Homo sapiens: one gene and its partners. The protein of the gene in region 2 purifies or fractionates together with the protein of the main gene of each other region. This does not show direct contact. Each region holds a gene or a part of one and is shown on either strand. Other genes may lie near its edges.

Region 1 (4,278 bases), on a different chromosome or scaffold from region 2:
CCTTGACCTCCTGGGGTCAAGTGAGCCTCCCACCTCAGCCTCCCATGTAGCTGAGACCACAGGTGTGCACCACCACACCTGGCTAATTTGTTTGTTAAATTATATGTAGGGACAGGGTCTTCCAACCTTTCCCGAGCTGGTCTCAAGCTCCTGGGCTGAAGTGATCCTCCTGCCTCAGCCTCTCAAAGTGCTGGTATTATAGGCATAAGCCACCACGCCCTGCCCATTTTTCTAAGTTGGATTATTTTACACTCCAGTCTGCTGTGAATGAGAGTTCCAGTTGTTGCGTATCGCAATCAATTTGTGATTGCCTACAAATGATGTGCCGTGATGAAATTGTCCCTGGTGTCCGAGAGGATCGCAAAGAATTTCCCTTCCTTTCTCTCCTTTCTGCTCCCCTTGTACTGTCTACTCCTTAAACTGGTACTTGATCCAGGAACATAATGGGGATGGACAGTGCAGATGGCACACATGGCCTCAGTCTATTGGAGCATCTCAAAGGAATTAGTCTGCAAATTCTAGTGCATCTAGGTGGAGCACAGGAAGGAAGAGAGGTGCAGACTCACGTATGGCCCTGGGGCACCTGCCATCCTCTCGCACCCGTACAGCCCTTACCTGCCAGCACTTACCCTACCCAGCTTGAGTTCTGGGCCTTCTCACCAGCACATCGCTGGGACCTGGTCGACTTCAGGTAAGTTTATTTCATGGCTCCCTCCCCCACGACCTGCACATGCCATATGTTCCTTCCCAGCCCCATGTCACTTGAAATGTTCTATCATGTCCAAGACTTCTCTCCTCATCCTAAAGTGCAGAAAATAAGGATGGAGAAGAGAAGGAGAAGAGAATCAAGAGAGATTCATTGAGAGGGAGGATCAGAAGCTCCTGGGCACCCCATACTGTAGAATAAAAATATTCATTATGGTGTTTTTCTTGCAAAATATTCCCCTCTACATAATTATGTTTTTACATGAATAATATAAATTTAAACAGGAGAAATACTTTTTGAAGAGTCTGAGAATCTTCATAAAGTTCAGGCGGCCACGAATTAGCTGTGTGACCTGGGGCATGCCCCTTAGACTCTGAGCCTCAGCTTCTCTGTATGTAAAATGGGTTGAAGCCGCCCTTCCCCACAAGCACCCTGTGCACAGGCAATGCCCAGCCCCATTATTTTCTGGACTCCGTGGCCAAGCATGCTTAGGACACACAGCCACATACTTCTGGGCAGTGTCATCTGGCAACTTGCTGTCATGTCAGTGTGGTCAAGCATTGTAGACCTCTATGAACCAAATATGCTTCAGGCTTGGGTTGAGCACAGGAGAGGGAGGAGGGAAAGGTCACTGGGGCTGGGAGTGCCTACTTCCCTCTGTGAGTGTCACCCCAGTCCACCCAGTACCATACCTTTCTCTCTCTGGACCCACTTCCTTTTGCTGCCGGCTCCTCCCCATTGAATAACAGCCAAGTTGCTTTGGTTTCTATTTCTTTGTTAAGTCGTTCCCTCTACAAAGGACTTCCTAGTGGGTGTGAAAGGCAGCGGTGGCCACAGAGGCGGCGGAGAGATGGCCTTCAGCGGTTCCCAGGCTCCCTACCTGAGTCCAGTGAGTTCCAGGGCTATGGGCACAGGGCTGCCTCAGCCAGAGGGACACAGCTCTGGGGCTCTGAGGAAGCAACTCCTGGGTGGCAGGGGATGGGGGTGGGGGCATCCCAAAGAGAACACAAGCAGGGCAGAAATATCAGAGGAGGTCATCCTGGCACACCTGTGCCGTGCTGAGCTCACTCATGCCTGGAGGGATGCTCCTTCCCACGAGTCATGGCTTTGACAGTGTTGACTGAGCTGTCCTGTCCTGTCCTGTCCTGTGTGCTCAGGGGAAGACATGTAGAGCGGGGTGGTTCATGTAAAGAGGAAGCAAGCACGCTTCTGGGACAGTAAGGACGCTACCCGGCATGGTAGTTAAGGGTGCTTACTGTGAAGGTGGCCTCCCTGGGTCCAGCTATTTACTGGCTGGTGGTCTCTGGGCCTCAGTTTCCATATCTGTGAAGTGGGAATAATACTTGAGCCCCCCACTCCCAGGGTTGGGATATGGATTAAGGAAGTAGTGTATCTAGTGTGTTTGAACAGTGCCTGACACACTGTAGGTGCTTTGGGAGTGTTTCATGTTATTGGGTGTCTGAGGGCAGCAGGGAAGACCTCCCGAGGAGGTGTCTGTGCTCTGAAGGTTGGGCATGGGCATGTTCAGGGCATCTGTGGAGGGGCAGTCTCAGAGGTGAGAGGGGGGTGAGGACTGTCCCTGCAGCGTGGGGTCAGAGGGCGGCAGGTGCCTTGCTGAAACCCTGTGAGGTTTATGAGTCCCCTTCATACACGGAAAATCTGAGGCTCAGGGAGGCAGAGGCCAGTTGCCAAATGCCTCCAGATGGGAGTGGCAGCCCCAGGAGCCCAGGAGACTTCAGGGGTCACTGTGTCCTGGGCCGGCTCCTGTCATAGGATCTCACCCCGCCTTGGCAAAGAGCTTCCCGAGGGGCTGGAGAGGGTGGGCTGATGGGTCCTTCCTGGGTGGGGAGGCAGGGTGGGGAGGGTGGGCAGAGGCAGGGTACTGAGGGAGGGAAGCTGCCATGGCCCACCTCAGCAGAGGCCAGGGTCGGGCTTGAGTGCCCCCTGGTGACACTGAGTCCAGAATGAGGCTGCCTACGTTCTGGTCTGCAGAGCTCGGCTCTGCTTTCTAAACTCCAGAGAGAAAGAATGGGGAAAGGAGGCCTGTTTCCTCCTGGCTGTCACCAATGACACCTCAGCCACCCTGTGGAGGCCCCTGAGGTAGGACCTGCACAGAGGGGGCTGGGGGAAGCTGGAACAGGCCGCTGGTGGGGGCCTTAGGGTCAGCAGGTGCTGCCTTGGGCATGTCACCCTGTCTCTGGTTTTCTGTCAAAGAGGGGATCCCAGAGCTTCTTCCAGGTTCTGACATATTATTATTCTGGTGACTGGTTTTTACTTTCTAATCCTTGGATTCAGAAGGAAAATTATCCTACGGACATCAGAGAGTTAAAACAGGGCCTTGGAGTCCAGACAAGAAAGATGATCAGTGCAGCCCCTATGGGTGTCCAGAGTACCCCTCTACCCCACGGGGGCTCCCCTGGGTTGGGACAATTAAGCCTCACTTGGTGACCCATCTGGCAGTCGGAGCCACGCTTCCTCCACATGCCGACAGTGGGGGAAGGTCACGCGGTTCGCTGTCCTGCTGAGGAGGGCTGAGTGCCATGAGGGCCTGGCTTGGAAACCTCACTCCCACTTCTTGTCTGGCCTCATCTAGCCCAGCCTCTTTGGAGGGCCTGGGGGAAGCTGGAACCACGTGCTGTGTGGTCCAGGAAGCACTGGGAGAGCCAGGAATAAGGATGTTCTCAGCTTACTCATGAGAGGAAGCCTGTGTGGTGGTTAGAAGCGTGGGTGCTGGGGTTCAAATCCCAGCTCTGTTGCTGACCAGTTGTGTAACTTTGAGCAAGTGACTGAACTTTTCTGTGCCTCAGTTTCCTCATCTGTAAAAGTGGCCGGGGTTGCTGTGAGGATAAATGTTCCTAGTCATGCCCAGAGCCCTCATGGACACACATGGATCCAAATGCCACAGCAGCCTTAGCTGGTCAACCTCAAAACAACACATTTGTTCTTACAGTGTTGGAGGTCAGAAGTCTAAAATCAAAGTGTCATGGAAGGTGGCCAGCAGGACCATGGAGCCTCTGAGGCAGCGGGGCACCTTGGCTAAGAGCCACGTACTGGCCTCCTGCTGGCACGCAGTCTTGGCCAGCCAGGCTGAGCTCCCCACTTCGGGGTCGGGCCTGGGTGTCCTCTGGTGATGCTGAGTCCAAAACAAGGCTGCCCACATTTTGGTTCACAGGGCTCAGCTCTGCTTTCTAGACTTCCAGATAAGAAGAGGAGGAAAAGTCCCCGGTCTCTGGGCACTATCAGGAACAGAGAGCAAGTCATGACTCAGCAGAGGGATCGATTTGTTCAATGCAAAGAGCTGCACTGTCATGTCTGACATGAGCCAGGGGCTCAGCACACGGAATCGCACCCAGTCCTCTCAGAACGCTGCCAGCCAGGGGCTCAGCACACAGCGTTGCACCCAGTCCTCTCCAGAACACTGTCGGGTGGTGTTACTGTCCTGCCATTCAGAGGAGGGAACTGGGGCACAGGCAGGTCAAGTGACTTGGCCAGTGTCAGAATTGCTAGTGTACAGAGCTGGGAGGCAAGCCCAGTCCCGTGGGACCATAAATCCAGTGTGAAAATCCATCCTC
Region 2 (3,500 bases):
TCCTTACTCCTAGCACACCCTAAGCTTGACCACCTCCTCCTGGACCCACACCTCCCTCACCTTTGAAATACTTGACAGTCTTCACTTTCAGCTCCAAGGTGGCATCCTCGTCACACACAAACACGGTGCGGGGATGCTGCTGGAAGGCAGACACGGTCCACATGTGGTTCACTCCCTCCTCGATGGCCTTGTACAGAGCAAATGCCTTGTGAGCACCTGTGATAAGGATCATCACCTGGGGATCAGAAAACAAGTCTGTGATGGAGGGGAGCATTCCAGACACCCTAAACAGTTGTAAGGATGATTGTTTTTCATATCACATTGTAAGTGGTTACCATGCAACATACTTTTGCTCAGTGCTCCCTGTGCTTTATCACACAAATAACCCGAGGCAGGCAGCATCATTATCTCCATCTTATAAGAAAACAGAGCCCCAGGGGGTTAAATAACTTGCCCAGGGTCATTTATGACCCCAAAGTTCATGTTCTTGACTACCACGTGACAGTGCCTCCAGGTATCTTTGATGATGACTATGAAGGTGCCCTGTAAACAGACATGCCATGCCCAGGCCTGCTATCCCATCAGCTGGGTGACTCTACACAAGCACAGTTTGTGAAAGAGGGCTCCCAACCTGCACCACCAGCAAGGGCACTTTGCAAGCAATGGTGGGAGTTATCTGTGGGGCCTCTAAGGCTGAATCCCAGAAAGGTTGCCCCATTATCTGGTCACTTTCAGTTCACAGCATTAAACCTATGAACTAATGTGACTTGGGGTGATGGTTTTTGTTAATATATAATAAAACAAAGGCACAGTCTCCACTTAACAGTTAAAATATCGAGAATGTAAGTGATCTTAAAGAACTCAGCTCTATTCAAGGGCAGGAAAAGAGAAAAAAACTCAGTTCTGTAGATTTCCTTTCATTTTAATTCACATGTGCCACAGAGTTGTGAACAGGATTTACTGTTCCTTTCTTAAAAGATTAGAATGCAGAAGCAGAGAGGGAATGTGACTATTTCTTCCGGACCCCTCAGCAACCCAGAACTCTTTAGAAAAGATAATTTCCTGATTTCCAGCCCCAGGTCCTTTCCCAGATCAAGATGCCCTCATGATAAAGACGGCCCTAAACCTGTTTCCAAGCTGCAGAGCTAAAAACAGCGAGTAAACACCCCCACCCCACGTACTGATTGAAGATTACCCAACAGAAATCTGGGTGCCATCACTCATTTCACAAAAGTTCACTTTAAACAGGGAAGTTTTCACTGATTTAGATGCTTGTTTATTGGCTTGGGCAAAGAAATGTAAATCTAACATGTCTATACACGTCAGAAAGGAAGAGAAAATGCTTCTAAAGTTCTAATGAAAATAAGGAAATTGGAACCACAAAAAATTCACATTCAAATGATAGCCAATTTTTTAGGGGAAAAGCTAAATTCAGTTTAAAACACTTATATTTTAATCATACTTCACCACATTTATTAATCTCTGAGCACGGGGCTAGAAGCACAAGCATCCTTGGTGTCCCAACAGTGACCTCTACCAACTACAAGGAACAAGGGAACCCCTCTCTCCATACCTGGTCAGGTACAAATATTCCAACATTAGCGATGCTGGCCTCCTCTCTGCCTGTGAAAAGCATGAAAGGGGCCTGAGGCCAGAGAGCCTGCTGTCTCAGGCAGTCAGCCAAAGGCACCAAAAACGTGCTCAAGGGATTCACCTCACACTGGGAATAATGATGTCTTCCAAAGACGCAAGAGGAACAGTGAGTAACAGGGTCAGCAGGGATTTTAGCCTTATTTACCATGCCTTCATCTTTAATAAGAATGTAGGTGGTACCAGTATAGTTAAGATTAACAAGAGAAAGACAAGTCCACCAGCGCAAGCTGGTGGGGCCCTTATGCCCTTACCTCTCTAGCATCCATGACAGTGCCCACCCCCACCGTCAAGGCCATGGTGGGCACCTTGGTGAGTTCTCCATCGAAGAACCTAGCATTGGCCAGGATGGTATCCATGGCCAGCGTCTTCACACGGGTCCTGGACACCAGACTGGAGCCTGGCTCGTTGAAGGCAATGTGTCCATCAGGGCCGATGCCTATAGGGAGAGAGCCCGTGCAGCCCTGTCAGTCCCAGGGATCCAAGATTTCAAGAATGGACAATCTCTCCTTCCCTAACTAGGGTCTGAAGAAAAATCATTGAAAGCTGTGTCACCTTTCTCATTTGCAGCCCTGGGCAGGTACACCTTAAACATGTGATCTGTCCCCCTCCCTACCATTTCTTTCTCTTTGCCATACTGTCTCAGAGGAGACCCTCCCCATCATGTCTATCTGAGGCACACACAGACATTGTTAACTTGCTATCACCCTCAAAAAGCTGAGGAGGAAACACTCCAAACAGCTTCTGCCTCCCCAGATTGTCAGAAAAGTGGACCTTCTCTGTCTCTTCTGCCTGTAGTTAGAGGGTCCTGCTGCTGGGATAGAGGTGCAGTGAACAAAACACCCAGAGAACCTGGACAGGGGCTGCCAAGGTTCTAAAATCTCAGAGGATGAGAGGTCCTGCCCCCCTCCTCCCCACCTTGAAGTATAGAAGAGTGATCTCTAGAGCAATAAAAGGCAGTTCAATGTTACCCCTCATGGGTAACTCCAGAGGTGGCGATAGATGGATACACAGAAGGGCAGCCCAGAGGACCCGAGCACAAATCCAAGAAGCACACACTTGCTCCCACCTGTGAACCTTGAGTGAGTCACCTAACTTCTCTGGGGTTCAACTGGCTATCTACAGGGGCTGTGTGGAGCCTTCCGGAACTACATGAGTCCATGATGTTAAATGTTTAGATAAGTTCCAGGACTGATCCATAAAACCTTAAGACTGGGGAGTAGACAGAATCTCAGAGTCCAAACCCAAACCTCTCAGTTTACAGACAAGGCATCAAACTGCAGAAAGAGATCTCCAAGATAACATAGTTCCTGAGTAACAGAGCCAGGCAGGGCCCATTTCTCCCGCCTCTGTCTCTACGGTCACTAGCACACCCAGAAGAAGCTGTCTGCAGACAGGCATTGTGTCTTGTCCTCCTTCCCACGGGTCTGGCCCTGGACATGTGTGCTGCAGAGTGTCAAGCTCACCTCCAACAAATAGCTCGATCCCACCTGCAGCCTTGATCTTCTCTTCAAAGGCATCACATTCTGCCTGTAGGTCGACTGCATTCCCATCCAGAATGTGGGTGTTTTCTGGGTGGATGTCAATGTGCTTGAAGAAGTTGTTCCACATGAAGGAGTGGTAACTCTCCGGGTGGTCTCGAGGAAGGCCTGTGGGGCCGTGAGACACTCGGTTATGCCTAGGCCAAGCCAAAGCCCCTCTCCTAAGAAGGATGCCAGGACACCATGCTGACCTACAGAGACACTCCCAGGGGTCTGCCCATCTGGGAGCCTTAGGCACCAGCCCTCTGACCCCTAGCCACTCGGCACAGGCTGAGCCAGTATCCATAAGTGTCCACCCACCCAGTACCA
Region 3 (3,500 bases), on a different chromosome or scaffold from region 2:
TTCCTTTTTTTTTTGAGACTCAGAGTCTTGCCTTGTCACCCAGGCTGGAGTGCAGTGGTGCTATCATAGCTCACTGCAGCCTCAAACTCCTGGGCTCGAGCAATCCTTCTGCCTCAGCCTCCTGAGTAGCTGGGACTACAGATGCATGTCACCATGCTCGGCTAATTTTATTTTATTATTATTTATTTTATTTTACTTTACTTTTTTGAAACGGAGTCTCGCGCTGTCACCCAGGCTGGAGTGAAGTGGCACAATCTCGGTTCACGGCGCCCTCCGGCTCCTGGGTTCAAGTGATCCTCCTGCCTCAGCCTCCTGAGTAGCTGGGATTACAGGCCTGCACTACCATGCCTGGCTAATTTTTGTATTTTTAGTAGAGACCGGGTTTCACCGTGTTGGCCAGGCTGGTCTTGAATTCCTGACCTCAAATGATCTGCCCGCCTCAGCCTCCCAAAGTGCAGGGATTACAGCCATGAGCCACTGCACCCTACCTTATTTTATTATATTATTAGTATTATATTGAGACAGAGTCTCCCTCTGTTGCTGTGTTGCGGAAGTGCAGTGACATGATCATAATTCACTGCAGCCTTGATCTTCTAGGCTCAAGCCATCCTCCTACCTCAGCCTCCCAAGTAGTTGGGACCACAGGCATATGCCACTGCACCTGGCTAATTGTTTTTATTTGCTTTTTGTAGACAGGGACTTGCTGTGTTTCACAGGCTGGACTTAAACTCCTGGCCTCAAACAATCCTCCTGCTTTAGCCTCCCAAAGTGCTGGGATGACAGACATGAGCCCTGAAGGGATGGGGCTTTGGCCCGTTAAATGTCACTGGAAATGTTTCCCTCCAGAATGTGCTCCTGGGTGACCTGAGCGATGGTATTAACAACTATGGGTCCCACCAGCCTCCAGAGCTGCCAGTCGTGGCTACAGGAGACTCAGCCTTAGGCTGGGGCACAGAGAGGCTGAATAGAGGGTGAATGAACAGGCAGCGTATGGGAGGGACCAGCGTTTCTTGGTATTATACAAAAGCTAGTGGAGGTGGTGCTGGTTGGTGTGGGGTGGGCGACTGGCACGGTCAGATGCCTGATGCCTGTTGGCCTCCTCAGAAGGGGAGGCTGGCAGTAGTGGGTTCTGGGACATGCAGGAGGGTGGCCTGGATTTGCCCTGCAGCACTGAGGTCTGCCTGTTCCCCACTGGGTCCTCCATTTGAGGCCCTGTCAGCATGGCCCTCGTCCCCCTTGCTTCTTTTCCCCATGGGCCTCTGCAAGGTTACTGCCCACCCTCCACCCCACCTACCTGCCTGTGGTGGGCACTGAGAGCCAGGGAAGCAGATCCTCACTGCCAGGCAGCAGGCCATGTGCGCATCCATCAGGGTGCCAGACCTTGTCCCCACGCAGCCCTGGCTGGGGTCACTGCTGCTGCTGCTCTCTGCCTGTGGCTCTGGCCCATCTTTGCCCAGGCGTTCTGTCTGAATGGTTTTCTTGTCGTGCCTTTTTTAGACACCGCATGGAGTGAGGTTTGGGGCTTGCCTCAACTGGAGTCTCATTCTTCTTAGAGAGGGAGTTTAGCCCGTTTCCATTTGGCCTTAGGACAGAAGGCCCTGTTGGTTTCTCTGAGAAGCCAGGGGAGGAGCCCTAGGCTGGAGAGGGGATTCTAGAGCGGGGTGGCTCTCAGAAGCAGAAGGTGGGCAGAGAGGACGGTGCACGCTGGGAGAGTTCTCGAAAGCATCAGCAGATGGGCCCAGAGTGCCTGGAAAGCTTCCGTCCTTCACAGACAGCGCCATGCTCTAAGAATAACCCATGCCAAGTCCAGGCTTTCTTCCTGTTTTGCAGAATTACCAGGTTGTTAGGCTAGGGGAACGTATGCTGGGATTCTGGGAAGAATTCCACCCGCACTGGTATTCTTAGAGGACGGGAAGCCCTTGGCTGCGGTGTGAAGAGGGCTCTCTCTTTCCATTCATATCTCATAGATCCTCTGGCCAGGCTTGGGGGTGTTGAGGGACTCCAGGAGTGTGGGGGGAACTTCCTCCCTGGAAGAGGCCTGTGCTCTGTCCCTGCTGAGGCTGGTGGCATTTGCAGTCACATGGTGAGCTCACAGTGACTGTCCCCCTCTTACCTCCCTGGCAGGGTTGGCAAAGACCACACCAAAGTCCCAAGTGATTAGTTCCCCGGCCTCCCTGCACAGAGGCTGTGCATGTCCCCTGGGCATTCACTCTAGCTGTCTGGGCTGCAGGGAGGCAGGGTGCCTGGCCCAACTGGAGATGGCACTCTACTGGGGGTGGTTAAGTGTTGACCATCACAAAGGCGACCTCTTTTGTCACATCTGTGTGAGAGGAGCTGGACTTTCTCAGATATGGATGAGCCTCACGACGCACATCCTTTCGTCCCTTGCTTGTCTACCAAGTCCCTATGTGCTCCAGGAGGCAGTGGTACAGGCCAGCCGCTCCGTATGACCAGAGAACCAGTGCCTCACACTCCAGCGCATTTCCTTCCCAGGGTGCACCAGGACTCTTGTAAAGAGGGCATTCTCGTGTAAGCAGTTGCTTTTTTTTTTTTTTTTTTTAATTTTTATTTTTTTGAGATGGAGTTTCCCTCTTGTCTCTTAGGCTGGAGTGCAATGGCACGATCTCGGTTCACTGCAACCTCCACCTCGTGGGTTCAAGTGATTCTCCTGCCTCAGCCTCCTCAGTAGCTAGGATTATAGGCACGCACCACCACACCTGGCTAATTTGTTTGTTTGTTTGTTTGTTTGTTTTTTGAGATGGAGTCTTGCTCTGTTGCCCAGGCTGGAGGACAGTGGTACGATCTTGGCTCACTACAACCTCTGCCTCCTGGGTTCAAGCAAGTCTTCTGTCTCAGCCTCCCAAGTAGCTGGGACTACAGGCGCCCGCCACCACGCCCGGCTAATTTTTGTATTTTTAGTAGAGACAGGGTTTCACCATATTGGCCAGGCTGGTCTCGAACTCTTGACCTCGTGATCCACCCACCTTGGCCTCCCAAAGTGCTGGAATTACAGGCGTGATAATTTTTGTATTTTTAGTAAAGATGGGGTTTCACCATGTTGGCCAGGCTGGCCTCAAACTCCTGACCTCAGGTGATCCACCCGCCTTGGCTTCCCAAAGTGTTGGGATTACAGGCGTGAGCCACCTCGCCCAACCAGCAGTTGCTGTAAAATTTTTTAAAAGGATGTCACTTATACTACCCAGTCATTAAGACTTCCTGAGGTGGAAAGATCACTTCAGCCCATGAGTTTGAGAATAGCCTGGGCAACATAATGAGACCCCACCTCTCCAAAAAAATTTAAAAATTAGGGCCAGGCGTGGTGGCTCATGTCTGTAATACCAGCACTTTGGGAGGCCAAGGTGGGTGGGTCACAAGGTCAGGAGATCGAGACCATCCTGGCCAACATGGTGAAACCCCATCTCTACTAAAAATACAAAAATTAGCTGGGTGTGATGGCACGCACCTCTAGTCCCAGCTATTTGAGAGGCTGAGGCAGGAGA
Region 4 (3,500 bases), on a different chromosome or scaffold from region 2:
ACACTAGCCTTGCTTGATCCAAAAGATACTGAGGGATCCTAATGAAAAATAATATAAGGCAAATTAATGCCTTAGCTAATAAAATAGTAGTTTTACTTTTTAAGGTACAGATAATTCAGACTAGATCATAATTTAAGAATGATTAACCTCAACTGATTATCATAGTTAAAGCCAATAGATACGTTAAACACAACCATCATGCAGAGATTCATTTACTAGTCTGACAAATATTTGTTGGTAACCTTTTATTTGCCAGGTATTGATCTAAGTGCTTGAGATACAACAGTGACAAGATCAAATAAAGATTCCCACTCTTGTGAAATATATGTTCTAGTAGCAGGTAAATAGCTAATATACAGTACATGGGCCGGGCACAGTGGCTCACGCCTGTAATCCCAGCACTTTGGGAGGCTGAGGCGGGAGAAATCACCTTAGGTCAGGAGTTCAAGACCAGCCTGGCCAACATGGTGAAATCCGTCTCTACTAAAAATACAAAAATTAGCCAGGTGTGGTGTTGGGTGCCTGTCATCCCAGCTATACTCGGGAGGCTGAGGCAGGAGAATCGCTTGAACTCAGGAGGCAGAGGTTGCAGTGAGCTGAGATCGCGCCACTGCAATCCAGCCTAGGCGACACAGTGAGACTCCGTCTCAAAAACAAACAAACAATAAATATAAGCAAAATACACAGCAGCACAGCAGTCATAGGACAGTAATAAGTGCTCTGAAAAAAAGAAAAAGTAGAGAAGAGTAAAGGGGACTAGACATACTAGACTGGGGCTGAGGACAGGTTGCAGTATTAAATGAGGCCTCTTTAGGAAGTGCAAAGACCAGGGGTGAGACTTGGCCAGGTCACTGTCTCAGAGTTACAAGCAGAGGGAACAACTAAAGCAAAGGTCCCATGCTGGAGCATGATTAGAGTGAGTATTCAAGGACAAATAAGGAGGCCAGTGTAGCTGGAATATTGTGAAGGGAAAGTAAGGAAGGAACTTAGAAGGATAACTAGGAATCTAAATTTAGAGTCTTGCAGACCACGATAAAGACTTTAGCTTTCTTTGGTTCTTTCTTCCTTTCAGTCTCTGCTCAAATTCCACCTTAACAGGTGAGACTATGATAGGCAAAGGGAAAACCTAGACTACTCAGTATAATATAGCAACTCAACACCCCCAACTCCCCATATTTCCTTTTCTCTTTATTCTTCTTTAATTTCTCCATAATACTTACTATCACCTAACATACTTGCCTTATTGTTATGCAAACTCCTTAAGTAGGAAAGAACTTTGGTTTGCTAACTGCTATCTCCCTAATGACTAGAATAGTACCTGGCACACAGCTGGCACCTTAAACAATAATTTGTTGAATAAATGAACAAAAATAGTGATTTGGCAGTTAGATTACTCATAAGCCTGGTCATTAAGTGTCTCAACATAAGAGACGGATCCACTTTTACTTAAGTGTACTGGCCAAATCAGGTTTCTAAACCTATTAACTGAAGAGCTGAATCTCTCGAGAGGTAGCCTGTTGGCCTTCACCTGGCAGATTCACTGTCTTTATTAATGTCATTAGACAAGACTAATGCTTTTATCTGAATTATAGTAACCTCTATATTTAATTTTTTAGTGTGCATCAACTTACATTTAAATTCTTGTTAATCGCTGCATATAATGTTGAATACTTACGTTAACTTCAATCTTTTTGCATGACCAGGCATTACAGGAACATAAAGCATTTTGACTCCCTGTACCACCATTGTTGGCTCAATTCCATACTTCTCCTAAAAGTGAATATCCAAAAAAGAAACAATGAAAGCCTCGCTCAAACATAAAATGCTTATTTAACATTGTTCGTAAACAATGTTTTATGACCAGTAAAAAAAGCAAATTCATGGTAAATAATTATAACTTCCAATAAAATTATAAATAAAAACAAAACAGAAACCAGACATAAAGCTACTAATGAACTAAATGAACAAAAGTATCTCACTTTGACTGCATTTATGAAATCCAAGAGGGTGAAATCTTCTTTTCCATGTACGGTCCATCGATCCCAAATTGTAAATGATATTCCATTTCTGTTACAGAAAAATATTCAGAACAGAAACATTGAAATTTTCTTCCTTTTAGTGATGACACACACACAAAAAAAACCCACTTTCAGAAGTCCATTATTTGTGATCAGGCTAGAAATTAATGTGGGGAAATAAAGGATAATATATCTTCTAAAATATTCCATAATCTTATTTCTTCATCACATCATATAGATAACCACTTTTAATCAGTACCTTGCTGATCCTTCCAGTGTATTATAAATCAGTATGTTTTAGCAAGACAGTGTTGTCTCTCTCTTTTTAAAATGGGTTTCACTGTGTGGATGTTCCAGTACCCCATTACTGGACACTTCGGTTATTCTAATCATTGGCCACGATAAATAATGCCAGAATAATTATCTTGCAAATATATAGTTTGAGACTTGTGCAAATGTATCTGAAATATAGTGCTATATATCCCTTACTGTGGATTATAGTATTTTGTACTCTCATTAGTAATGTATGAGAGTGTCTGCTTTCTCACACCCTTGTTAAGGTAGGTTTTTTTTCAAGTTTTTGGTTGTTGCCAATCTGAAAACTAAAAAGTACAGGCCCAGGAATTGTTCTGCTTTGTCTCAAGCTTGTGGAATTCTTCTAAATCTCATGACCTACAGTCAGACACCAGGGTACCTTCTAATTCATCTGGCAGACACAGATGAAACCATAATGCCAAATAATGTGGCAGATAAAGTGCTGTAAGGGTTCTTTGGCTACTTTAGTCAGAAATATTTAATGAAGATGAGGTTTGAGCTGATCTTGAAGTGATGGCAAAAATTTACACATACACAATAGAAGAAAAAAGAGGTGAAGCTAGTATTTTTCCCTTTTAAAAGGTAAAATATTTTATTTCATTCTCATTATACAAGAGAAATAGACTTTCATACATACCTGATTTTAGTTTTCCTTACTTCAGTTGTCTCTGTAAATACTACAATTGGAATGGCTAAGTTAAGAAAACAATTTTTGTAAGCTTCAAATGGATAGCCACCAGTTACTTTGATCATCTCCAAGGCAACCTAGATAAAAGAAGGTGATCTGATAATATAAACAGCCTAAAACTATCCGTGATTTTAATTGCATCTATTCAACTTTCACGTTTTCAAGCATTTCTCTGTGGATAGTAAAAGCAGCTATGGGACTATAGTAATATAAATTTCTTATTACAGGTCTGTATACTTTTAGTATATTTTATACTTTCAAACTTTCAACCTACTCTATACATGTTAACAGTTATTTAAAAAAATATTAATTCAACCATACAGTCTCCCTATTTTGAAAGCACATGCTGTAACTCAAAAAATAACAACAGTCTAAAATCACTTAATACAGGGGTAAATAACTACATAGCTTCATAGATAATTACATAGAGTAATGATGTAATATGGTATAATAACTAGGGCCGCACTTAAAGATTCTGA
Region 5 (3,434 bases), about 41 Mb from region 2:
AATTTACTAAGTATTAACTCACACGATCACAAGGTCCCACAATAAGCCATGTGCAGGCTGAGGAGCAAGGAAAGCAGGTCCGAGTTCCAAAACTGAAGAACTTGGAGTCCGATATTCGACGACAGGAAGCATCCAGCACAGGAGAAAGATGTAGGCTGGGAGGCTAGGCCAGTCTCTCACATTTTTCTGCCGCGTATATTCTAGCCATGCTGGCGCTGATTAGATTGTGCCACCCCAGATTAAGAGTGGATCTGCCGCTCTGAGTCCACTGACTCAAATGTTAATCTCCTTTGGTAGCACCCTTACAGACATACCCAGGATCAATACTTTGTATCCTTCAGTCCAATCAAGTTGACACTCAGTATTAACCATCACACTTGCAGTCTTCTATCTTTGCTGGCCACAGCTGAGGGATAGCTTGTCCTGCTTGGTTTTGGAGCACAGCCTCTATCCCTGCCATTCTTGCCAAAAGAGCGTCCTGTTAACAGACCCACTAAGATTATACCGTGTACTCCTGGTTCTGTTGCAGAGTTTGTTTGTTTGTTTGTTTTTGTTGTTTGTTTGTTTGTTTTGAGATAGATTTTGGCTCTCGTTGCCCAGGCTGGACTACAATGGCGTGATCTCAGCTCACTGCAACCTCTGCCTCCCGGGTTCAAGCGATTCTTCTGCTTCAGCCTCCCAAGTAGCTGGGATTACAGGTGCCTGCCACCATGCCAGGCTAATTTTCTGTATTTTTAGTAGAGGCGGGGTTTCACCATGTTGGCCAGGCTGGTCTCGAACTCCTGACTGCAGGTGATTCACTCACCCGGGCCTCCCAAAGTGCAGGGATTACAGGCGTGAGCCACTGCACAAGGCCTGCGGCATTTTTTTTGAGTCAACCAGTCTACCTTCTACAACTTCTATATCACCTCTCCAGAGAGTAGGAATCCTTAGCTACTTTTCTCATACCATATTGATTCTCCACTTTTTTCAGACTGCTGTGGAATTCCTGAGAAAGAGCAACTGAGGGATAGCAACATGGATTTCACTGAGTAGGTGGCAATTGAGTTAAAGTTATTTTTTTAAAGATATAAGTTAATCAAATAAGAGCCTATGAAGGCCCAGCATGGTGGCTCATGCCTGTGATCCCAACACTTTGGGAGGCCAAGGTGGGCGGATCACTTGAGGTCTGGAATTCAAGACCTCGCTTAAGGCTGGAAGACCATGCTTAAGGCTGGAAGAGAATTGGCTTAATTCTTGATAAGTTAAAAATAATTCCAATTGGGCATATAAATAAGAATGCCTTCTTCAATATTACATTTGGTCGTGGTTGAGTCATGCCAGGGAGGGAGTGGGGAGTGGTGGTTCCTACAGTAGCCCCTGAACAGCATGAAAACATCCAGAATAGAATTCTGAGGAAATTCCCACTCAAGGAATGAAATACTCTAAATGAGAGAGCTGGTCATACAGTCTTATAAATATAAACAGGTTCAAGGAAATGTTGGGCACAATGTAATATGATTGCTAGATCATAATAGTTATGCTAATTTGCATATGTTTTGAGGTTAATTACGAGTCTCAAAACGCCTTTCTGAAACCATATCTTAAGAGACTCTTTATGTGGTAGGTAATTTTCTATTTGAAAAAAATCTTTTAGATATTCCTCAGGGTCTCATATATAGTCAAGTTCAAAAGGCTATTTAGTGATAGAATTTGGATTAGGTTCTAGTAATTTTGTGTTCTCCTAGTTTATGAAACTGCAATTTTGATTTTACAGATTGACTTTTTTTCATAGTCTACAAATTCATTATCAGTATTATCATGGGTTTCAAGCGTTAAAAGGACAAGGGCTGTACAAAAGAATTCTAAGTGTTACATGTTTTTTTTTAATAACCTTCAGTATATTTTTTAAAGGATTAAATTTACTTTCAAAGTAAAAATATATTAGAACCTCATTATCTTATACTAATCATTTAGAGAACTATTACAGACTGCTGACTAAAGATTCAGATAAGATGAAAAAGAGCATTATTCATTTTCAGATGTTTTTCCAATGAAGTTCTAAATGTTATTGATGATTATAAAGGAAGATTTATTAAGTTTGTAAAATATGCACATTTTGTTTTTTTTTTTAATTTGGTTTGATCAAATGCTTTTCATTACGATGGCTCTTACTAGCAGAAATATTTTTGGAAGGCAGGATTTAAATTAAGTAGTAGTAAAGTTGTATAATTAGAATTAAAATCTATAAAAATTTGTATGTCAAAATATAGTTTTATATTATAATAAACTAGTTAGGCAATAAGAGAGTAAATGGGCAAACTTGCCCCATTGTAGTGTTTATTGGAAATCTTGTCTTTAGTATGGATAATTTTTGTTACCGTATTATAAATTTCCAAAGCATTGATTGTTTTATAGATTATACCTAGTAGCTTGTAGCTTTAGTAATCCTCATTTCTGAAGGTTAGAAATAGGAACAAATAACTGTATTTATAGGAACCATAGAAATGAATAACTGTTGTTGGCTCTTGAATAACATGGGGGCTAGGGGCACCAACTACACAGTCAAAAATCCACGTGTAATTTTTGGACTCCCCAAAAACTTAACTACTAATAACCTGCTGTTAACTGGAAGACTTACTAATATCATGAACAGTCAATTAACATGTATTTTGTATGTTATATGTATTATATACTCTATTCTTACAACAAAGCATGCTAAAGAAAAGAAAATGTTACTAAGAAAATCATAAGGAAGAGAAAATATATTTACTGTTCATTAAGTGAAAGTAGATCTCATAAAGGTCTTCATCCTTGTCTTCACGTTGAGTAGGCTGAAGAGAAGGAGGAAGGAGGGGCCGATCTTGCTGTCTCAGGGGTGGTAGAGGCAGAAGAGTTGAAGCAGGTGGAAGGGGAGGCAGGCACACTTGGTGTAACTTTACAGAAACACATCTGAGATTTTTGCCTTTTGATTTCTCTAAAACTGTTTCTATTGGTACCAATTCTTCTTCCACAGCTTGCTTTAGTTTTAGTGTCCATATCATAGAAAGGTCCATGTCATAAAAGAAGTTGAAAGCAGTCTTGAATAATTGGAATTCTTCTGCCACATTGACTACTGCCAATTTGTTTTCTGGTACAGCTTCTTCTACATCTTCTTCCTTATCATGTGGCACTGGTTCAGAAGCACTCATCTCCATCAAGTCATTTTCTGTTCATTGTTCCATTGTAATGTCAGTTAGCTCTTGAATTACTCCAAGATCCTCATCTTGACATCTTTTATTACCGATTTTTTTTTTTTGCAATATCCACAGTTTCTTTCATGATTTCCTTGATTGGCTCTATTGTAAATCCTGTGAAGTCATGTGCAACATCTTGAAACAGTTTCCTCCAGCAGAACTTACTGTTTTGCACTTGATGGCTCTCAAGTCTTTTTCAATAAAATAGCAGCATCTTCA
Region 6 (3,500 bases), on a different chromosome or scaffold from region 2:
GCCACCGCGCCTGGCTGAAAAAATTTTTTTAGGAAAATGATTGTTTGCCTTTTTGAGACAGGGATTCTTTTGAGAAATTGAAGAATTTTCTCAGAGAAAATGGGTACACGTAAACTAATTTTATGTATCTTTTTCAGAGGGTTTACTGCCGATGAGCTAAGAATCCTCTTGTAAGGTATTTGGATAGGCAACTTAAAGACAATTTTAAACAGCTCCTTTAAAATTATAAAACGAATGCTCTTTTATTCCCCCATTTCTCTCAGTTAACTTTGAAACTACCTCTTAGGGCATTTAGCTGTCTCTTTCTGGAAGATGAAGTTGTCTTGAGTACTGGGTGAACTAAGGTAACGTTATAAATGGAAACACAGTTAAGGTCTAAGGGTTTTGGAAACTAAATGAAGTTTCACTTTTTGTTGTTTCTCAGAACATTTTTCAAACCAAATATGATGCCTTAGTTTTTCATAGAATATGCTTTTATCCTGTTTAGTTGATTACAAGATGCATATTTTTCTACCTTTTAACTTCTTTTTGATTAAGAAATTTCTTAGATGGCCAGGTGTGGTGGCTCATTCCTGTAATCCCAGGACTTTGGGAGGCCGAGGCGGGTGGATCACCTGATGTCAGGAGTTCAAGACCAGCCTGGCCAACATGGTGAAACCCGGTCTCCACTAAAAATACACAAATTAGCTGGTGTGGGCCGGGCGCGGTAGCTCATGCCTGTAATCCTAGCACTTTGGGAGGCCGAGGCGGGCGGATCACGAGGTCAGGAGATGGAGATCATCCTGGCTAACGTGGTGAAACCCCATCTCTACTAAAAAAATACAAAAAAATTAGCCAGGCATGGTGGTAGGCACATGTAGTCCCAGCTACTTGGGAGGCTGAGGCAGGAGAATGGCGTGAACCCGGGAGGCGGAGCTTGCAGTGAACTGATATCGAGGCACTGCTCTCTAGCCTGGGCGAGAGAGCGAGGCTCTGTCTCAAAAAAAAAAAAAAAATTAGCGGGTGTGATGGTCCGCACCTGCAGTCCCAGCTACTTGGGAGGCTGAGGCAGGAGAATTGCTTGAACCCAAGAGGTGGAGGCTGCAGTGAGCCTAGATCATGCCAGTGTACTCCAGCCTGGGCAACAGAGTGAAGCTCTGTCTCAAAAAAAAAAAAAAAAAAAATTCTTGGAATCCATGAAGTCTTGTAATTGCCATCAGCCAAGTGGTACTTATAACCTAGTTGTGAGAGACCATTTCATTGAAATCTTTTGGTAAATTTTTTTTTAAATACCAGTTTCAATGTCATAGATTTGCTAAAATAAGGATTATTTCTTCCTGGATTGAAGGATTTAGGTCCTAATTAATACTCTGCGTTGATTCTCCTTTTTTCACCTTTTGTGTCAGGAAAAATTTTTATTGAGGACTCATTAAAGGAAAAGCAAATTGTAGGAAAAGTCACTTCCTTAAAGATAGTAAGTGAAAGTATTAGGACAATGATAACCTTAGAGCTTTTAAGAATGATCGGCCAGGCGGTCGCCTGTAATCCCAGCACTTTGGGAGGCAAACAACAAAAACAAAAAGAATGATCTTCATAAAAGCAAAGCTTTTTTTTTTTTTTTTTTTGAGACAGAGTCTCTGTTACCCAAGCTGGAGTGCAGTGGTACAATCTTGGCTCACTGCAGCCTCCATCTCCTGGGTCCAAGCAATTCTCCTCCTCAGCTTCCCGAGTAGCTGGGGCTACAGGCGTGTGCCACCATGCCAGACTAATTTTTGTATTTTTAGTAGAGATGGGGTTTCACCATGTTGGTCAGGGTGGTCTCAAACTCCTGACCTCAGGTAATCCACCCACCTCGGCCTCCCAAAGTGCTGGGATTACAGGCATGAGCCACCACACCTGTCCAAAAGCAAAGCTTTTAAAGCTTTAAGGCTAGTTAGACCATTTTTCAACATAATGATAAAATGTTCTGTTCCATCTTTCCAACTTAATGGTCAGTTGGAGACACGTGAGAGAAAGGAGACCATCCAGCAAATTAGGCTACCTCTGATAATCTAGTTATGGAAAAATAACAGTGAGGAAAAGGTATAAATTCAGAGTTTAGGACTACAGATTTCCATCTTGCTTAAAGATTATATTGAAAAGGTTTAATTCTTTTATGTTTCTGAACTTCTTTTGAACTGCTTCACATACGACTACAGAGATATCTGAGTTGGTTGGATGCAGTGGCTCATGCCTGCTCACACCTGTAATCCCAGCACTTTTGGGAGGCGGAGGTGGGCAGATCACTTGAGGTCAGGAGTTCAAGACCAGCATAGCCAATATGGTGAAACCCCATCTCTACTAAAAATACAAAAAGTAGCCGGGTGTGGTGGCATGCGCCTGTAGTCCCAGCTACTTGGGAGGCTGAGGCAGGAGAATCGCTTGAACCCAGGAGGTGCAGGTTTGCGGTGAGCCAAAATCTTGTGCCACTGCACTCCAGCCTGAGCAACAGAATGGGACTCTGTCTCAAAAAAAAAAAAAAAAATCCTACAGAGATTCCTGAGTAAAATTTAACCTCTTTGATTGTGTTAATATCAACTTTATTCAGCAAGAAATTGTTATTCAGAGATTATGCTTATGTACCTCAAAATTAGTTGACTCTGAAGTGAATGGAATGATAGATACTAAGTTGAAGAGGTAAATTTAGTTCACATCACCAAGGTTTGATGTTACTTAAATGATCTTCCACATGATAATTGGAAAATTCAGGTGTTGGAATATGTATTTAAGATGCAAAGTGGCTAGGAGTGGTGGCTCACGCCTGTAACCCCAGCACTTTGGGAGGCCGAGGCAGGCGGATCACGAGGCCAGGAGATTGAGACCATTCTGGCTAACACGGTCAAACCCCGTCTCTACTAAAACTACAAAAAATTAGCAGGGCATGGTGGCACGTGCCTGTAGTTCCAGCTACCCGGGAGGCTGAGGCAGGAGAATGGCTTGAATCCAGAGGCGGAGAGGTTGCAGTGAGCTGAGATCACGCCATTGCACTCCAGTCTGGGCAACAGAGTGAGACTCTGTCCCCTGCCGCCCCCTCCAAAAAAAAAGAAAAGTGAATAGTCCACTTTAAACACCTTTATTTGATTTAGTAACAAATACATATAAAAATGTTTTGGTTATTGGGTGGGTGCAGTGGCTCACGATTATAATTTTTACCCAGCACTTTGGGAGGCAGAGGTGGGCAGATCACCTGAGCTCGGAAGTTCGAGACCAGCCTGGACAGCGTGGTGAAACCCCACATCTACTGAAAATCCAAAAATTAGCCAGGCATGATGTCGTGAACCTGTAGTCCCAGCTATCCGAGAGGCTGAAGCAGGAGAATCTCTTGAACCCAGGCCAATCGCTTGAACCCAGGAAGCGGAGGCTGCAGTGAGCCGAGATCGCGCCACTGCGCTCCAGCCTGGGCGACAGTGAGACTCTGCCTCAAAAAAAAATAAAAAGGTTTTGGTTATTGTCTTATTATTATTATTATTTTTTGACGCTGT
Region 7 (4,022 bases), on a different chromosome or scaffold from region 2:
CTGGATGACAGAGCGAGACTCCGTCTCAAAAAAACAAAAAAACATAAAAACCTTTTTTTGGTAGAGACACGGTCTCTCTATGTTGCCCAGGCTGGTTTCAAACTCCTGGGTTCAAGGGATGCTCCCACCTTGTCCTCTCAAAGTGTTGGCATTACAGGCGTGGGCCGCCACACCTAGCCAGAGTTCAACAAATATTGCAGGCACGTGTGGGAGACCAGGACATGCCTCCCCAAAACATGAAGGATTGTGCTAAAGACAAGCAGCAGCACATTCAGGAAAGCTCTCTACCCTGGCCCTATTTGCCTAAAAGTAGGACACAGGTTTACAAAGACAAAAGGTATCCTGTCCCTCTGTCTACCTAGGAGAACAAAGACAACTTTAGACCCCTATGGCCTGGAGATGGTACCAGAGGAATTTACATTAACAAGCTTGACTAACTGGCCTTTGTCTTTTTTTTTTTTTTTTTTTTTTGCCTTCTCACAAGTTGCCTCCTGGAGAGACTCAAAGCCCTATTTCTTTGTCTTGTAACTTAAAAAAATTACTGTTCTTTGTTGAAGATGCTATAAAAACTGGAATTCAAAGTCACCTCTTCCAGAACGACTCATTCCCTCCAGATTTCTCATGTATAAATGAAATACACATGTCAGTAAATTTCTGTCTGTTTTTCTCTTGTTAATTTGTCTTTTGTAACAGGAGTCTCCCCCAACTAAGAACCTATGAGGGCTACAGAAAATCCCCTACAAATGAAAGGGGCAGAAATGACAAACTGCGATGAAAGGCCATAAGGATGCTCACACCCGAATCTAAAAAGCCCTTTGTGTGGGCCGCAGCCAAGCATACTTTGGCAAGAAATTTCTGTGGCTCTAACCTCCTTTGAAAACTGGAGAACCAAGGCCAGGAGGCAGAAGGAGGTGGCAGACCCGGCCCGGCGGCGGCCCAGCACGCGCAGGCCACCCAGAGTGGAGGTGGGAAACGGCATTACGCCCCTTTCCCTTTTCCTGGTCCCGCGGTGCTACCTCGTGTGCCACCCTTAAAGCGTAGTCCCCGCCGAGACCGCCCCCGCCTGAGTGGCAAGGGGACGAACTGCGCCCTGAACAGGCCTGGAAGCCCAACCCGGTGCGGACCGCCCTCAGTCTCCTAGTCCGGGCGCGCTGAGCGCAGGGGGGCGCTGTCCTCACCCACGCGTAAGTCGCCGCAGGGCGTTTCCGGGCGGAGAAAACCTACACGTGATGGGCGCCCACCGAGTGCCAGCACCGCCTCCTCCAGCTCCGCCAAGTAGGTGGGATCCACTACTTTGCAGAGGAGGAAGCCGTTCAGGCCTCCCTCTGTGCACTTTGCAAAAGCCTCTGCCCTTCCATCTCGAATCCCTTGGCGCCGATCACACTTCCTCTGCCTGGAAACCTGGAGCCGTCTCTCGCGAGACGTCCTCCGCCCTGTAGAAGGCCGTTTCGGTTCTTCGTGCGCGGTAGCCGCCCCACTTGCGGGATTCCAAGGCCTCATCGAGTGCGGGTATCTGGCTGTGGATTCGCCGCCGTCCTGCTGGACGCCTGGAGGCTCGAACCCCGCCGCCCCCCTACCCCAGGCTTTACTCCCACCCCGGCTTCCGCCCACTGTGCTGCCCTTCCTCGGACCTGGGCTGTCGGGAGAGCTGGAGGTGAGCGCTCTTGGGAGAGCCCAGCCAATTTAAAGAGTACCCCTGAGAAGACTTTGCGGAGGAAAATTTAACTGCGGGTACCCGCTGAGTTTATGGTGCGCCCAGTGTTACCAGAGCTTGTGTTGTGCATCAGGACTGGGAAAATTGGCAAGGAGTTACGCTATAATGACTCATATTTTATTGAACTTTGGTCATCAGCCAGGATTTGTTCTAAGTACTTTATTGTCACTAACATATATATTTATGTCTTCACGGCCACCCCGAGGTGGTTACTGTTATATCCACTGTGCAGATGAGGAAACTAAACTGGCTTAGAGAAGTGAAGGAGTTCACACCCGCGGGCAGGAGTAGACCACCCTCTCCTTGGTGTCCACACCTCGTTTCTTCAGGACTGAAGAGGCAGGCCCTGGAGCTCTGCCTGGGTTGCCTGCACTTGTGGAGGTTCCCATTCCTCCCTTCCCTCAGTTCCTACCCGCCATCTGCCTCAGAACACCACATAATCTCATCCTACCCTTTACACCACAAGACCCCCAGGACTCCCAGGCAATACTCTGCTTTAACTCAGGAAATTTTAACCTGGCATTTGGTAATTGAGGTGAGCAAGGGTGGAAAAAGAATGTTGATGACCCCTTAGGCTGGAGAGTGAAAAACTTTTGCAGAAGTAGAACACGCTAAAGCAGCAATACATTAAAGTCACGTCAATGTGGCAAGTGCAGTCCCTGGCACGTACTAGGTCCTTAACAGATTTTTCTTGTTGAAGTCGTTGCACATATGGTTACAGCTAAGGGACACAGGAAGTGATGAGTGCATAAACCTAAAGGAAGGGGCAGATAAGAGAAAGGGGACTCCCATGACTCCAACTCCTTTCTGATGCTTGGTGCTATGGAAATCCCTTGAGCAGGCCTGTGCGTTTTGTCTTTTTGCAGATGTTCACCCTTCCTCAAAAGGACTTCAGGGCTCCCACCACCTGTCTGGGCCCCACCTGCATGCAGGACCTGGGCAGTAGCCATGGGGAAGATCTGGAAGGAGAATGCTCCAGAAAACTGGACCAGAAGCTGCCAGAGCTCCGTGGAGTGGGTGATCCTGCCATGATCTCCTCTGATACCTCCTACCTGTCCTCTAGAGGAAGAATGATTAAATGGTTCTGGGATTCAGCTGAGGAGGGCTACAGGACCTACCACATGGATGAGTATGATGAGGACAAGAACCCCAGTGTGAGTGAAGCTCCCCTCCCACTGGGACCCAAGAGAGAACTGCAGGGTGGGGTACCCTACCTTGACCAATAAGGCAGCATCCAGCCTGCTCTTATGAGGTTGGAGTTATGGTACTCTGACCTCCAAGAGGGCTTCTGATGTAGCTTAGAGAGGCCCCAGTGTACTGCCTGGATCAGGAAATGGTCCATTTAGAATATAGGGGACCTTGATTTCTGAGGGAGGAATTCAAGAACCATATGATGTTCTATGGATTCTGACCCACGACCTGTCGACTATCCAACTTTAGAGCTAGGGCAGAACTAAGGTTCAGGTTGCAACTGTTTTACTTATAGGTTGTGTGTTGCTGAGCTAGTTACTTAACTTCCTTGAATCTTAAGTTATCTCTAAAATGAGATAATAAGGCCAAGCATGGTGGTTCATGCCTGTAATCCCAGCACTTTGGGAGGCTGAGGCAGAGGGAACACTTGAGGCCAGGAGTTTGAGACCAGCCTGGGCAGCATAGCAAGACCCCATCACTACAAAAAGGTAAAAATAAAAAAATTAACAGGGTGTGGTGGCGTGCACTTGTGGTCCCAGCTACTGGGGAGGCTGAGGTGGAAGGATTGCTTGAACCTGGAAGGTTGAGACTATAGTGAGCCAAGATCATGCCACTGCATTCTAGCCTGGGCAACGGTGTGAGACCCTATCTCAAAATAACAACAAACAAACAAAAATAAAATAAAATGGGATAATAATACCTGTTGTGTAGAAGAGTCAAGATTAAATGAGAGCAAGTATATGAAGTTTTTAGCACAGTGCTACTCAATAAATGATAGCTGCTATTATTATTTTCTGTCCCAAATATAAGCTATTCTCATAATGCCTTCAGAAGTCAGAAAGCTGTTACAAATAACCCTTTAATAATCTTTATTTGTTGAGCATCTACCATGTAGATGTGAACAGAAACAAAGTTCTTATCCTCATAGAGCTCATATTCTAGTTAGGGAGACAAACAGTGAATGAACAGAGAAAATATATGTATACTATATGGTGGTGAGTACTATAGAGAAAAATAAACCAGGTTAAAGAAGACAGAGAAAGATGGGTGGGCTGGGGATGTTGCTATTTAGTAGAAGGAGGTCACAGAAGGCTATTTTAATAAGATGAACATTTGA

Evidence for each region.
Region 1: the proteins of GNPDA1 (region 2) and LGALS9 purify together in Homo sapiens (co-immunoprecipitation; one large-scale study listed by IntAct). This does not show direct contact.
Region 3: the proteins of GNPDA1 (region 2) and TANGO2 fractionate together in Homo sapiens (co-fractionation; one large-scale study listed by BioGRID). This does not show direct contact.
Region 4: the proteins of GNPDA1 (region 2) and UBA6 fractionate together in Homo sapiens (co-fractionation; one large-scale study listed by BioGRID). This does not show direct contact.
Region 5: the proteins of GNPDA1 (region 2) and FAM174A purify together in Homo sapiens (co-immunoprecipitation; one large-scale study listed by IntAct). This does not show direct contact.
Region 6: the proteins of GNPDA1 (region 2) and UBE2R2 fractionate together in Homo sapiens (co-fractionation; one large-scale study listed by BioGRID). This does not show direct contact.
Region 7: the proteins of GNPDA1 (region 2) and ACCS purify together in Homo sapiens (affinity purification with mass spectrometry; 2 studies listed by BioGRID and IntAct, with this or other methods). This does not show direct contact.

Annotation. Positions count from the first base shown.
Region 1 is NC_000017.11:27,629,710-27,633,987, forward strand, and holds the start of LGALS9 (galectin-9), read left to right. Parts: upstream 1-1,478; 5' UTR 1,479-1,556; coding exon 1,557-1,595; intron 1,596-4,278. UniProt on the Homo sapiens protein: Binds galactosides. Has high affinity for the Forssman pentasaccharide. Ligand for HAVCR2/TIM3. Binding to HAVCR2 induces T-helper type 1 lymphocyte (Th1) death.
Region 2 is NC_000005.10:142,003,028-142,006,527, forward strand, and holds part of GNPDA1 (glucosamine-6-phosphate deaminase 1), read right to left. Parts: intron 3,300-3,500; coding exon 3,117-3,299; intron 2,090-3,116; coding exon 1,905-2,089; intron 236-1,904; coding exon 61-235; intron 1-60. UniProt on the Homo sapiens protein: Catalyzes the reversible conversion of alpha-D-glucosamine 6-phosphate (GlcN-6P) into beta-D-fructose 6-phosphate (Fru-6P) and ammonium ion, a regulatory reaction step in de novo uridine diphosphate-N-acetyl-alpha-D-glucosamine (UDP-GlcNAc) biosynthesis via hexosamine pathway.
Region 3 is NC_000022.11:20,027,610-20,031,109, forward strand, and holds part of TANGO2 (transport and Golgi organization protein 2 homolog), read left to right. Parts: intron 1-3,500. UniProt on the Homo sapiens protein: May be involved in lipid homeostasis.
Region 4 is NC_000004.12:67,621,156-67,624,655, forward strand, and holds part of UBA6 (ubiquitin-like modifier-activating enzyme 6), read right to left. Parts: intron 3,099-3,500; coding exon 2,971-3,098; intron 2,068-2,970; coding exon 1,980-2,067; intron 1,771-1,979; coding exon 1,676-1,770; intron 1-1,675. UniProt on the Homo sapiens protein: Activates ubiquitin by first adenylating its C-terminal glycine residue with ATP, and thereafter linking this residue to the side chain of a cysteine residue in E1, yielding a ubiquitin-E1 thioester and free AMP.
Region 5 is NC_000005.10:100,580,374-100,583,807, forward strand, and holds part of FAM174A (membrane protein FAM174A precursor), read left to right. Parts: intron 1-973; coding exon of another isoform or gene 974-992; exon of another isoform or gene 993-1,031; intron 1,032-3,434.
Region 6 is NC_000009.12:33,823,660-33,827,159, forward strand, and holds part of UBE2R2 (ubiquitin-conjugating enzyme E2 R2), read left to right. Parts: intron 1-3,500. UniProt on the Homo sapiens protein: E2 ubiquitin-conjugating enzyme that accepts ubiquitin from an E1 ubiquitin-activating protein, and catalyzes its covalent attachment to other proteins by an E3 ubiquitin-protein ligase complex.
Region 7 is NC_000011.10:44,065,048-44,069,069, forward strand, and holds the start of ACCS (1-aminocyclopropane-1-carboxylate synthase-like protein 1), read left to right. Parts: upstream 1-1,222; 5' UTR 1,223-1,654; exon of another isoform or gene 1,655-1,946; coding exon of another isoform or gene 1,947-2,249; intron 2,250-2,580; coding exon 2,581-2,868; intron 2,869-4,022. UniProt on the Homo sapiens protein: Does not catalyze the synthesis of 1-aminocyclopropane-1-carboxylate but is capable of catalyzing the deamination of L-vinylglycine.